Linked DNA regions of Homo sapiens. The protein of the gene in region 1 purifies or fractionates together with the protein of each later gene. This does not show direct contact. Each region holds a gene or a part of one and is shown in the gene's direction. Other genes may lie near its edges.

Evidence for each region.
Region 2: the proteins of THAP8 (region 1) and CYRIB purify together in Homo sapiens (affinity purification with mass spectrometry; one large-scale study listed by BioGRID and IntAct). This does not show direct contact.

What each region holds. Positions count from the first base shown.
Region 1 is NC_000019.10:36,040,709-36,044,357, reverse strand, and holds part of THAP8 (THAP domain-containing protein 8), read left to right. Parts: intron 1-3,649.
Region 2 is NC_000008.11:130,006,467-130,010,115, reverse strand, and holds part of CYRIB (CYFIP-related Rac1 interactor B), read left to right. Parts: intron 1-1,662; exon of another isoform or gene 1,663-1,782; intron 1,783-3,649. UniProt on the Homo sapiens protein: Negatively regulates RAC1 signaling and RAC1-driven cytoskeletal remodeling. Regulates chemotaxis, cell migration and epithelial polarization by controlling the polarity, plasticity, duration and extent of protrusions.

The sequences.
Region 1 (3,649 bases):
TAAGTATCTTTGTTTAATAGTTAAAATTGGTTAGTTTTAAGAAAAATATGAAATAAGTAATATCACAGATATGGAAAACATTGTGAAGATGGGATATGCATGAGATGTGTCTTAGTTATCTAATGCTATATAACAAACTATCCCCAAATTTAGCAGCTTGAAATAAACATTTACAGTCTCAGTTTCTGGCAGCTGCTAAGGACAAACTGGCCAGCATTTGATCATGTGGCCACCCCTGGCTGCAAATAAGGCTGGAAAAGGAGGTCTTTATTATGGGTAGCCTTGAGCCCAGGTCTAAATAGAGAGTGGATTACCATCTAAGAGGGTAAGAGCAGATGCTGGGAATAAGTGGCACCCGGAAACCGGAGAAGTGGGGCACATTTAGAGGGTCCCTCATCAGATAATCCTCACCCACAACCACTGAGAAAGCTTTTATTTTTTAAAACTTAAAACAAAAAAAATTTTTTTTTGAGATGGAGTCTTGCTCTGTCGCCCAGGTTGTAGTGCAGTGGCGTGATCTCGACTCACTGCAACTTCCACCTCCCAGGTTCAAGTAATTCTTCTGCCTCAGCCTCCCGAGTAGCTGGGATTACAGGGACACGCCACCAGGCCTGGCTAATTTTTGTAATTTTCGTAGAGACGGGGTTTCACCATGTTGGCCAGGCTGGTCTTGAACTTGAATTCAAAATCACTTGAGGTCTGACTGCAAGTGATCCGCCCACCTCGGCCTCCCAAAGTGCTGGGATTACAGGCGTGAGCCACCGTGCCTGGCCTATTAAAATTATTTTTACCTGTGGCAAAATACACATAAAATCTACCATTTTGATCATTTTTAAGTGTACAATTTTGATCATTAAGTGTACAATTCACTAATGTTAAGTGTTGTATAACCAATCTCCAGAACTTTTTCCTCTCCTAAAACACTCTATCCCCATTGGACAATTCCCTCTTTCCCTCTCCCCCAGGCTCTTGGCAACCACCATTCCACTGTCTGTCTCTAGGAATTTGACTGTTCTACCTCATATAAGTGAAATCGTCAGTATTTGACTGGCTTATTTCACTTACCCTAATGGCCCTCAGAGTTCATCTGTGTTGTTGCATGTGTCAGATCAAGACTAAATAAAATTCCAGGCCAGATGCAGTGGCTCACACCTGTAATCCCAGCACTTTGGGAGGCCGAGGTGGGTGGATCACCTGAGGTCAGGAGTTTGACACCAGCCTGGCCAACATGGTGAAACCCCATCTCTACTAAAAATACAAAAATAGCCAGGTGCAGTGGCAGGCACCTGTAATCCCAGCTACTTGGGAAGCTGAGGCGGGAGAGTCGCTTGAACCCAGGGGGCGGAGGTTGCAGTGAGCCGAGATCACACCACTGCATTCCATCCTGGGCAACAGAGTGAGACTCCATCGCAAAAATAAATAAATAAGCCGGGCATGGTGGCGGGAGCCTGTAATCCCAGCTACCCAGGAGGCTGAGGCAGGAGAATCACTTGAACCCAGGAGGCAGAGATTGCAGTGTGCCGAGATTGCGCCATGGCACTCCAGCCTGGGTGACAGAGTGAGACTGCATCTCCTCCCTCCCCCCAAAAAAAAGACTAAATAAAATAAAATTCCATTGTATGTATATGCAGCATTTTTCTTATCCATGTATCTGTTGATAGACACTTCCACCTTTTGGCTGTTGTGATTTATGCTGCTATGTTTCTGTTGTCTGTTTGTTTGTTTTTGAGACAGCATGTCGCTCTTTTGCCCAGGCTAGAGTGCAGTAATGTGATCATGGCTCACTGTAGCCTTAACCTCCTGGGCTCAAGCAGTCCTCCCACCTCAGCCTCCTGAGTAGCTGTGCCTCTAGGCACATGCCACCATATCTGGCTAATTTTTCTATTTTTTGTAGAGACAAGATTTCACCTGTTGCTCAGGTTGGTCTTGAACACCTGGGCTCAAGTGACCCACCCACCTCAGCCTCCCAAAGTGCTGGGATTACAGGCATGAGCCACCACGCCAGGCCTGATTTATGTTGCTACGAACGCAGGTGTGCAAATATCTCTCCAAGACCCTGTTTTGTGTTCTTTTGGGTATGTAAGCAGAAGTGGATTGCTGGGTCATATGGTAATTCTATTTTTCAGTGTTTGAGGAACTGCCATATTGTTTTCCACAGTGGCAGCACCGTTTTACATTCCCAGCAGTGTACCAGAGTTCCAGCAGTTTTTCCACATCCTCACACACACTGTTCTTCTCTTCCTCTTCCTCCCCCTCTTACTCCCTCCCCCTTCCCCTTCCCCTCCTCCTCCATCACCCAGGCTGGAATGCAGTAGTGTGATCATAGCTCACTGCAGCGTTCAAATTCCTGAGCTTAAGCAATCCTCCCACATTGCCTCCTAAGTAGATAGAACTATAGATGCACATTGCCACACCCAGCTAATTTAAAAAATATTTTTTCGTAGAGACAAGGTCTTGCTACATTGCCCAGGATGGTCTTGGACTACTGCCTTCAGGAGATCCTCCTGCCTCAGCCTCCCAAAGTGCTGGGATTACAGACACAAGCCACCATGCCCGGCCTCTTTTTTGTTGTTGTTCAATAGTAGCTGTTCTGGTGTTTGTCAGATGATATTTCATCAGGGTTCTGATACTGCGTTTTCCTAATGATTGGAGATGTCAAGTATCTTTTCATGTGCTTATTGGCCATTTGTATGTCTTTGGAGAAATGTTTGTTCAAGTCCTTTGCCCATTTTTGAATCAGGTTATTTGTGTTTTATTGTTGTTGAGTTGTTTAAAGACTTGTTAGTGGGTGTTTTCAAGCATACACAAAAAGTAGAGCCCTCAGTATCCATCACTGTGTCACTAGTTATCAACACTTTGCCAATCTTCTTCCCTGCCCTGCCCACACCTCTAAGTTTTTGTCCTGCACTATTTTAAAGTAAATCCCAGACATCAGATCTTTTATCCGTAATTATTTCAGACTGATTTCTAACAGAAGACTGTTTCAGAAGTATAAACCAATACAGTTATCACACCTAGCAAAATGAATTTTTTTTTTTTTTTTTTAAAGACAGGGTCTGGCTCTGTCACCCAGGCTGGAGTACAGTTGCGCAATCTCGGCTCACTGCAACCTCTGCCTCCCAGGCTCAGGTGACCCTCCCACTTCAGCCTCCCGAGTAGCTGGGACTACAGGCATGTACCACCATACATGGCTAATTTTTTTTTTTTTTTGTAGAGTCGAGGTCTCCCTATGTTGCCCAGGCTGGTCTCGAACTCCTGGGCTCAAGCGATCCTCCCACCTTGTCGTCTTCCCAAAGTGCTAGGATTACAGGCATGAACCGCCATGCCTGACCAGTTTCTTACAATTATCTTATAACCAGTTCATGTTCAGTTTTCCCCAATTGTCTTAAAATGTCTTTTTACTGAATTGTTTGTTGTAGGCAAGGTCCACATCCTGCGTTTGTGCTGATGTTTCTTAAATCTCTCTTAATCCAGAAACCCCACACCCCCATTTATATGGTGTGGAAGAAACGTTTTCGCTTGGCTGCACGATCTCCCACATCGTAACTGTCTGATTTTATAAACTGCTCCAACAAGTTGATGTGGAAGAACAAATTGGGAGTGGAGGGGCGGGACTGTGGGCAGGAAGACCAGGAAGGAGGCTGGAAGG
Region 2 (3,649 bases), on another chromosome or scaffold:
TTTTCCCCCTCCCAGCACCAGCATCCTTTGATAAGAAGGTGGGGGAAGGACAGTGAGGGCCCCGTTGTGCAGAGGAGTTAAGGATGGGAAAGGCTTGGGCGGTAGGAGGAAGAAAAGCTCCATTCTTTCCTCATCTGCCTAATAGAGTCTCCTGTCACTGGCTCTGTCTGGCCGCTTTAAGCTCTTTGGAATTTACATCCAGTGCTCACTCAACAAAGCCTATTGCATGGCAGGGCTGATGGAGCCCTGGGCCTGCTTCTCAGCGCTGCATGACCTTGGGCAAATCACATCCCACTGCAGAACCAGAATTGTCATTGATGAAGCTGGGCTACTATCACCTGCTTCCCTGGAATGTTTGGAGGATTGAGTGGGATAATGTGTATCAAAGCATCTAGCATAGTCTAGCAGAAAGCCTCCATATACACGTCCTTCTCCCATGGGGCATAGTCACAGGTGGGTGAGAGCTGTATGATTTGTCCAGGGCTATCCTTCTGGCAGAGATGGGATCTGAATTTAATGCAGGGGGACAGTTTTTCATGATGCTTTTGGGCCGGGCGCAGTGGCTCACACCTGTAATCCCAGCACTTTGGAAGGCCGAGGCGGGTGGATCACCTGAGGTCAGGAGTTCAAGACCAGCCTGGCCAACATGGTGAAACCCTGTTTCTACTAAAAATACAAAAATTAGCTGGGCGTGTTGGCTGGCACCTGTAATCCCAGCTACTCGGGAGGCTGAGGCAGGAGAATTGCTTGAACCTGGGAGGCAGAGGTTGCAATGAGCCAAAATTGTGCCATTGCACTCCAGCCTGGGTGACAAGAGGGAAACTCTGTCTCAAAAAAAAAAAAAAAGATGCTTTTGAACTCCTCAGATGGCTTTATGAAAAATGAAACACTTTGCCATGTTAGTGGTTGGCGCCTTTGAAAAAGGACAGTGGCAGGTTGAGAAGCAAGGACCTTGGAGCCAAGGAGATCTTTGATTCAGACCCGACTCCCTGACTGTGAAGTCTTTTGCACATTGCATAACCTCTCTTGGCATCTCAGTGTCTGTTTTCCAGCTTGTTGTGGCTCTTAGGTCAGAAGATGTCTGAATATGCCTGACATAGGGTCTAGCATCAGTGAGTGCTCAGTAATTTGAGTCCCTGGTCTACAGAGCCTCAGTGCTGGGACTCAGGGAGAGGAACATGTAGACTAAGGGAAGTTTCTTCACCAGCCCCAGCTTTGCTCAAAACCAGAGTTGAAGTAGAATGCAGAAGACGACGTGGAAGTGAAACTTGGGCAATAACTTCCTAAAATGTCTGCTTTGCTCCCCTGAACTCTGGTTTTGTGTCTTGCCCTCTGCTTCTGGGACACGAGAGACCAACCAGTGTGTAGACAGATCAAACAGGCTTGCAAATGAAAGAATCAAATGGAGATTTCTGTGTTTTCTGAAAAGTGGTATTTTACAGTCATTCCTAAACATGCCTTCATAACTCTCAAGTTTTCAGGTCTTGAGGGAGGAGTGAGATTCATCCTGCCATTCAACAACAGAACAGTCACTGAGTGTGCACCTCCTGTGTGCTAGGCCCCGTGATGGATCCACATGGGGAATGATAGTGTGTGCCCCACAGTCACCCCACACATGTCCCTGAGGCCTGAACAGCTTGGAGAATGAAGGAGTTTGGGTTTATTTCTTTGGGTTAACTTAAACTCAGCCCTTCTAGGCCCATTCTTTTCACTCAGGAATTGGATAAGCTTTTCTGAGGGGTTTGGAATGGGATGGCAGGGAGAGTCACCAGACACCATGAATGACAGGCCAGCAGGTTGATGGTGGCGAGTGGAGCAGGAGCTAGGGAGTGAGGTCACATTTCTGGACTATGTGTGCAGGCAGCTATGGACCTGGCAGAAAGCCCCTCTATTTATTTATTTATTTAGAGACAGAGTCTCGCTCTGTCACCCAGGCTGGAGTGCAGTGGCACGATCTCGGCTCACTGCAACCTCCACCTCCCGGGTTCAAGCAATTCTCCTGCCTCAGCCTCCCGAGTAGCTGGGACTACAGGCGCCCGCAACCATACCTGGCTAATTTTTGTACTTTTAGTAGAGATGGAGTTTCACCATGTTGGACAGGCCAGTCTTGAACACCTGACCTCAGATGATCTGGCCGCCTCGGCCTCCTAAAGTGCTGGGATTACAGGCGTGAGCCACCATGCCTGGCCTGGAAGCCCCTCTTAACAGGGCTCCCATCAGGATCACGTCGTGGGTTTCTGTGATTTTTTTGGTCTCCTTTATGGCAATATTAACTTTCTTTTATGGAGCATGGAGCAAGTGTCCTGTACTTTGTTGTTGTTGCTGTTTTTGGAGATGGAGTTTCGCTCTTGTTGCCCAGGCTGGAGTGCAATGGTGCAATCTCGGCTCAGCGCAACCTCCGTCTCCCAGGTTCAAGCAATTCTCCTGCCTTAGCCTCCAAAGTAGCTGGGATTATAGGCCTGTGCCACCACGCCCAGCTAATGTTGTATTTTTAGTAGCGACAGGGTTTCACCATGTTGGGCAGGCTGGTCTCGAACTCCTGACCTCAGGCGATCCACCTGCCTCGGCCTCCCAAAGTGCTGGGATTACAGGCGTGAGCCACTGCGCCCAGCCATGTCATATACTTTGAATATTTTATTTCTTACTTTCATGGTAACTCTGTGAGGCAGGTAATATTATTCCCGTTTTACAGATGAGGAAACTGAGAAAACCTGGAGGCTGATAAAAAGCAGAGCTGGAATTCAAACATACCAGGCCAGCTTCAGTGCCCACCTCCTGTTTTTACTACCTCCTTTGGGTGAACCTCAAACGTAACTGGAAAAGTCTATGAATGGAGTTGTGTAGCCGAGAGCAGACACTGCTCCTGCTGGACCCTGCTGGGAGAGGGCGGTGGTTTTCTCAGTGGGCATCTCATAACGGCGGGCATCTCAGCAGCCCTCAGGGCCAAGAACCACCTACTGCAAACTCGTCAGCCAAGGAAGCTCAGAATTTATAATTGTGGTTGTAAGTAGATTACTTGAGCTAATGTGAGCAGTGAGGTTTTTGGTAAAGTTAGTGTGAAACTGACTCATACTAATAATCTACCTCTTGATGCATTTGGTGTTGCGATTTGTAGCACTTTGCATTGTCTGCATACATGCATCCCCACTAGAAAAGATTTGGGGGAAAGAAGGGTCCTGAGACCATACACTCTGGGGGATTGAATTTGAAAGGAAAATTTCAATGTTTGGATGCTGGTCCATGTAGACTTGAGCAAATAAGGTGCACATAGGATTTATACCTCTGCTTTCAAGTCCCCCCACCCATTTTCTATATGTGACCTTGCCAGCATACTCTATGCATGTGTTCCCCCTTCTGCAGGATTTCTTTAATCTGCTCATACCTTGGGTGTGCTTACACTTCCTGGGTGGGAGGTTCCAGATATATGTGTGTATATATATACATATATATATACATATATATATGTATATATATACACATATATATGTATATATATACACATATATATGTATATATATATAATTTGTGTTTTTAGTAGAGACGGGGTTTTACCATGTTGGCCAGGCTGATCTCGAACTCCTGACCTCAGGTGATCCACCTGCCTCGGCCTCCCAAATAAATAAATATATATATATTTTATTTTATTTTA